Homo sapiens: one gene and its partner. The protein of the gene in region 1 interacts with the protein of each later gene in a pairwise test. Each region holds a gene or a part of one and is shown in the gene's direction. Other genes may lie near its edges.

Evidence for each region.
Region 2: the proteins of ANAPC16 (region 1) and RBBP6 interact in a two-hybrid assay, tested with the Homo sapiens proteins (one study listed by BioGRID).

The regions. Positions count from the first base shown.
Region 1 is NC_000010.11:72,226,012-72,229,511, forward strand, and holds part of ANAPC16 (anaphase-promoting complex subunit 16), read left to right. Parts: intron 1-3,500. UniProt on the Homo sapiens protein: Component of the anaphase promoting complex/cyclosome (APC/C), a cell cycle-regulated E3 ubiquitin ligase that controls progression through mitosis and the G1 phase of the cell cycle.
Region 2 is NC_000016.10:24,560,066-24,563,565, forward strand, and holds part of RBBP6 (E3 ubiquitin-protein ligase RBBP6), read left to right. Parts: intron 1-1,546; coding exon 1,547-1,650; intron 1,651-1,758; coding exon 1,759-2,096; intron 2,097-3,133; coding exon 3,134-3,230; intron 3,231-3,357; coding exon 3,358-3,436; intron 3,437-3,500. UniProt on the Homo sapiens protein: E3 ubiquitin-protein ligase which promotes ubiquitination of YBX1, leading to its degradation by the proteasome.

The DNA.
Region 1 (3,500 bases):
GTTGCAATTTTTTTTTTTTTTTGAGACAGAGTCTCGCTCTGTTGCCCAGGCTGTAGTGCAGTGGCTCGATCTTGGCTCACTACAACCTCTGCCTCCCGGGTTCAAGTGATTCTCCTGCCCCAGCCTCCCAAGCAGCTGGGATTACAGGTGCCCACCACCACACCTGGCTAATTTTTTTAATATTTTTAATAGAGGCAGGGTTTCGCCATGTTGCCCAGGCTGAGCTTGAACTCCTGACCTCAAATGATCTGCCCACCTCAGCCTCCCAAAGTGCTATGATTACAGGCATGAACCACCGCACCTGGCCTTAATATTTCAAATTTACACAACTATATTTTAAAACTAATCTAGGAATATCTGTGAGAAAGATACAAACTATAGGCCAGGCATAGTGACTCACACCTGTAATCCCAGCACTTTGGGAGGCTGAGGCAGGCAGATTGCTTGAACCCAGGAGTTTGAGACCAGCCTGGGCAACATGACGAAATCCTGTCTCTAGAAAAAATAGAAAATTAGCTGGGTGTGGTGGCACGTGGCTGTAGTCCCAGCTACTTAGGAAGGTGAGGTGGGAGGTTCACCTGAGCCTGGGAGGTGGAGGCTGCAGTGAGCTGTGATCGCATCACTGCATTCGAGCCTGGGTGATGGAGACCTTGTCTCAAAAAAAAAAAAAGAAAAGAAAAGATACAAACTATAGTTGGCCTTGGGGGTGATGAATAATCAGAAATAATAAAAAGAGTTACGGGTTAAGCCCAAAATCATTTGTGACAGGAAACCACGGGGGGACTCTGGGACCATAGAGCTCCCTAGGATTGGTTTGGGTTATGACTAGTGGTGAGGTAGATGACCAGGTAGCATATGTAATTAGTGATACATGTACTTCTCTCTTTGCCTTTTTATTTTCTTTAATTGTGTTAACTAAATACTCAAGTTAGTATCACTGAGTCTGGTTAGAAGTAGTGAACAATTGGGGCCCTGTTACCATATTTGGTGCTAAAACTATATTATGACTTCATTTATATGCAGCAAAGACCTAGTATTAAGGAAGTTTCCCACAAAACAAATCAAAAATGGGAGACACTTAAATTGCTTAATGAGTTTTATAGCAGCAGAAGAATCCATATTCAACAATGGAGCTCTAAGATTAAAGTCATTTAAATTCTAGCTATAAGAGGAATTTAATACAGGAGGTACCTCCACAGTCTCAAAGCTATCAGCATTCTTTGTCAGTATACATCAAATTATGTGGAGATATTGAAGAAGAAAGGCTTCTGAGATTAGTCTGAATGTTGATGTTCTAACGAGTTATAGATCTATCCATTTTTATTCCATCTCAATATGCTTCATGGAGAAATGTGTTGTGTTTCTGTTGTAGGATACATTTATATTAAGTATAAATACACAGTGCACAGTTTTGATTGTGTTTCTTACATTTCAAGTTTTACCAATAATCTTAAATCTTAAAAAGATTAAGATAATCTTTAAAAATCTAAAATCTTAAGAATATAAAGAGTATTACACTTAAAGACTGAAAAATAATGTAGAGATGGCAACCCCTAAACCCATTTAATATTCTTGGTCAAATCAAGAATATTAAATTGAGAAGAGTACTCTGAAATGTAAGGATGTTGGATTTGGAAGCATTTTCTACCATGTTTATAGGTGATACTATTCTATTATACAATAAATCTAACACACATGTACCTGACCAATAATAGTTTAATAGAATATGAAAATAGAGGCCGGGCACGGTGCCTCACGCCTGTAATCCCAGCACTTTGGGAGGCCGAGGTGGGCGGATCACCTGAGGTCAGGAGTTCGAGACCAGCCTGACCAATATGGTGAAACCCCACCTCTACTAAAAATACAAAAAAAAAAAAAAAAAGGCATCGTGGTGTGTGCCTATAGTCCCAGCTACTCAGGAGGCTGAGAGAATTGCTTGAACCCAGGAGGCGGAGGTTGCAGTGAGCCGAGATCATGCCACTGCCCCCCAGCCTGGGCGACAGAGCGAGACTTGGTTTAAAAAAAAAAAAAAAGGATATGAAAATAGAGCAGGAAGGGTTGCCTGTCAAGAGTAAGGAACAAAAGCAGTTAGGAATCAAGGATGGATGCTGTTTTTAATCTCAAAAGGTTCAACTTGATGTTACATCCTTGTGAGTCTAGGATAGTAAACCCAAATCACCTGTAGTTAACCTTGTGAATTAACTTTTTTGTGCCTCTGCTCTCTGATAACAGACACCTCACATAAGCAGCATACAGCAGTTTGCAGCATTCTCCTGCCCTTGGCCAAAATTGTCCTCACCCAGTTATTACTGAGCACATTAGAAACTGCCTTCCAGCCCATCAGTGGCTGTATTTTAGAGACATTGTAGCCACTGAAGTATAAATTATCTGGCATTGTCTAATTGCCTACTGTGAGGTAATATTCTTTTTAATGTATTTGTTACCATCCTTATTTATTGGAGTTGGCTATGGTGTTAGATTTGGGTAATTTACTAAACTTTTCCCTGTTTATGACCTGTGCTTGTCCCTGACAAGGAAAGCTGATGTATTGCTACCTGCTGTGTTACAAAGGGTTTGATTACAGTTTCTAAATGGAAGAGATTGCCCCCAGCTGACTCCGTTCTGGAGCAATTCCAGGCTTTAGACTGGTACTGATACCACATCTAATAGGATGTGGCTAAGAAGCAATTGGACTTGGACGTTAATAGGGAGCTGCAAATCAGCAAAAGTGTGTTCCACAGGCATATAGTGTGGTGGAGTGAAATGCAGAGGTTCCTTTTTGAAAGTTTAGCTTATATCCTTTTGCTTTGAAGTTCATTACCAAGGAAAATATGCAAATATCACAACTTAACTATTTTATCCTAATGGTGCCTGTGATTAAATGCAAGTGAGAGGTGGCACTTTCAGGAGCTTCCATATACATCTTGGCCTGATCCTTATAGCCTATAATTCCCACTGCCTTGTGTGTAATCCTAAAGTTCAGGATCAAACCATCTGGGAGGTAAACTCTAATTGTCTATGCTTTCCTCTTTCTAAAATAAAATATGAGTTATAATTGGACTTTTTAAGCAAGAATATGAATAGGATAATGACTGCTGACATTCAAACCCCTTTTTTTTTTGAGACTGAGTTTGAATTTACAGAATGTAACACTGTCTCTGAAGAATACAAAAAGTATACATCCCAATAATTATACTTTCATTTTTTTCTTTTTCTCTTTTTTTTTTTTTTTTGATCACTTTGAAGATGATATTGGAAGGATGCCCTCTTGGTTATATATTCAAGCTCTTTGGATACAGTATCTATAGTTGTTTTTTTTTTTAATTGGTTATTGTGACTTCTGAAATAAGGTTTCCTTTGTGTGAAACTCAGCATGAGGCCAGAATGTGTTAGTCCTGTCTGCTTGCCATGTAATACCTGGCCAACACAACAACCCATGATTGATGGGTGAATGCTTGAGGCCTAGTAGTGCTAACGTGAAGTACTGCCTGAAAAAGGAC
Region 2 (3,500 bases), on another chromosome or scaffold:
AATATTTCTAAGTGTATTAACACCTGATTCCTGTAGACAGTTTTTGTTTTTTTTTTTTTTTTTTGAGACAGAGTCTCACTGTCTCCCAGGCTGGAGTGCAGTGGTGTAATCTCGGCTCACTGCATCCTCTGCCTTCTGGCTTCACACAATTCTGCCTCAGCCTCCCAAGTAGCTGGGACTGCAGGTGCCCGCCACCACACCCGGCTAATGTTTTGTATTTTTAGTAGAGACGGGGTTTCACTGTGTTAGCCAGGATGGTCTCGATCTCCTGACCTCGTGATCCGCCCACCTCGGCCTCCCCAAGTGCTGGGATTACAGGCGTGAGCCACCGCGCCCGACATCTGTAGACATATTTATTACCCAGCATTTACCATGCAGTTGTGACTTTTTAAATCACTTATATTAGCACTTAGTTGTTTCCTGCCACTTATCCTAAGTTTGTGCCTTCTTACACAGAAGAAATCAGTGTTACCTGAAAATTTGCTCAAGCCTGCTCTGGCCTTTTTCATTTTTAAAGGTAGTTTTGAAATATACAGTCCTCATACACATGGTTCTGCATCTGCAGATTCAAAACCACAGATCATAAATATTTGGGGGCAAGAAAACAGTAAAAAATAATAGTAAAGACTAATACAGATTTTAAAATAAGAGTATAACAACTATTTACATAGCATTTATATTGCAGCAGGTATTACAAGCAATCTAGAGATTATTTAAAGTATACTGGAGGATGTACATAGTATTATATGCAAATACTATGCCTTTGGGGCAGTTGAGTGACTTGAGCATCTACAGACGTTATCTTCAGAGGGTTCTGGAACCCATCCCCTTTGGATACCTGTAAATCTTTATTTTTTGACCTCTTCAGTGAAGACCAAGGTCAAGAAGAGGTTGCTAAAGACTTGTTTCAGATTATATCTTAGATTTAACATACCACTTGGTATTACTGGAGTTTTACTACATTGAAGCTTAATCTTCGTATCTGTAATTTAGTGTTGCTCCCACGTACTGTGCTGTAGGTCTCTCATTTCCTTGCCTGAATAAAAACCCCAAGTTAGCCATGTAAAATTTTTGTCTTTCTAGACTATCTTATATTTCTCTTTTGTTTTCTACAATATTCCAGTTACTAGCTAAACAAAGAATAGTCTTTGAGAAAGAGTGCTTTTGCTCTCAATTCAGACATTTGTTTAAAAAAAAAAAAAGATGGGGTGGGGGATCCTTGCTATTTTGCCCCAGGCTAGCCTTGAACTTCTAGGCTCAAGTGATTCTCCTGTCCCAGCCTCCCCAGGAGTGGGGATTACAGGCACATGCCAGCACACCCAGCTGTGACTTCTTTTTAGCGTAGCATAGGTCATATAGAAAAGAGCAGAGGAGTACTGTAAGATGAGAGATTTTACTTAAGTTTCTTAATCTAAGAAATGATTAGCACGACATGCTTGGAAAACAGTAATGTAACTGAACAAATGTGGACCATCCTTTTAATTCATTTCGTAAACACTTTGAGTTCCTACTATGCTTTTATTAATATTTGAAATCTTATACATAGGTATAAGAACAGCACTCCTGGAATCAGATGAGCACACATGTCCGACGTGTCATCAAAATGATGTTTCTCCTGATGCTTTAATTGCCAATAAATTTTTACGACAGGTAACTGTCTGTATCCATTTTATGAAAAAATTCTTTTTAACTGATTTAACTGTACTTCAGTGAATACTGCATAACATTTTTCTGCATTATTATGCTTGGTATCTGTAGGCTGTAAATAACTTCAAAAATGAAACTGGCTATACAAAAAGACTACGAAAACAGTTACCTCCTCCACCACCCCCAATACCACCTCCGAGACCACTGATTCAGAGGAACCTACAACCTCTGATGAGATCTCCGATATCAAGACAACAAGATCCTCTTATGATTCCAGTGACATCTTCATCAACTCACCCAGCTCCGTCTATATCTTCATTAACTTCTAATCAGTCTTCCTTGGCCCCTCCTGTGTCTGGAAATCCGTCTTCTGCTCCAGCTCCTGTACCTGATATAACTGCAACAGTATCCATATCAGTTCATTCAGAAAAATCAGATGGACCTTTTCGGTAAGCCTGTGTGTTTTTCACTGTTAGAAACCAAATGAGGTCAATGATGTAGTGTTTTGTTGTTGGTTATCACTTTTAACAGCTTTCTTAGTGGACCACTGTGCTCAGTAATGTGGGATGACTTGTAAGAAGTGACTTAGTCTTATTGGGGGAAGAGGAAAACAAACGTGATTGATTTGGCAAATGAGGATTAAGCATCCTGAGGTCAAATACTACACAGGTTGCCAACCAGCCCCTATTAAACGTTGAATGTTCCATATACCATAACAGCTCTGAACTTAACAGAGGTGGGAGAATTCACTTGTGATCATAATGATAGTTTTGGATAGGAGTAGTTTTGAGTAGAACTAAGAACAGTTTAGATAGGTAGAGAAGAGGGGGTAAAAACACAGGTAAGTAGAGAAGTCAGGAATAGTGATTGTTTTGGAGCATAATTATTATGTAGGAGAATAGTGAAAACTCACAGCCTACCACTTCAGAAATGAGACTTTTGTCCATGTAGTTTAATGTCTCATAAATTCTTTAAAAAAAAAAAAAAAAGGTGTAAGAGGCCCATTTCAGACACACTGAAGCAAAATCTTTAGGATGAGACCTTTACATTTACATTTAAGAAATTCCACTGATCTGGTGGAATTTATTTGGTTGATAGTGGAAATAGGCCCAGAGAGTTCTATGGCTGACCCAAGATTATCCTTTCAGTTTAGTGGTAGAACTAGAGCTAAAACTTAACTCTTAATCCTAGGGGGATTTTTGTCTTCATAGGCCAGACTTTGATTTTAAGTTTTACTATTCTTGCAACTGATTTCTGTCATAACTGTAGTATCTTCTTAAGGAGGTCCTTCATTTTACTTTTCCACTTACTACATATAGAGAACTCTTCAAAGTTTCAGCCTTCTCTCACTTTCCTCAGAAGTATTCATCATCTTTGACTTAACTCATCTTAACTGCAGGTGATGGGTAAACAGCAGCAAACTTTTTTACTCTTAATTGTCCATTTCTGATAATTTTTAATGTATTATAATTTATGTTTTTTAAAGGGATTCTGATAATAAAATATTGCCAGCTGCAGCTCTTGCATCAGAGCACTCAAAGGGAACCTCCTCAATTGCAATTACCGCTCTTATGGAAGAGAAGGTAAATTTTACTGGTGCTTTAATTTGGGATTTTTTTTACAGCAGGGTTTTGTTTTTCTGGCTTTGTTCTTACCTCTTTTTTTTTTTTTTTTTTAACTATTTCTGTTTATTTGTGGTTGTTTCTAAAGGGTTACCAGGTGCCTGTTCTTGGAACCCCATCTTTGCTTGGACAGTCATTATTGCATGGACAGTTGATCCCCACAACTGGTGAGTAAGATCACTTTGGTTTAGACCTTTTTCCCTTTAAAAAATAATTTTAGCTTGATTTAAT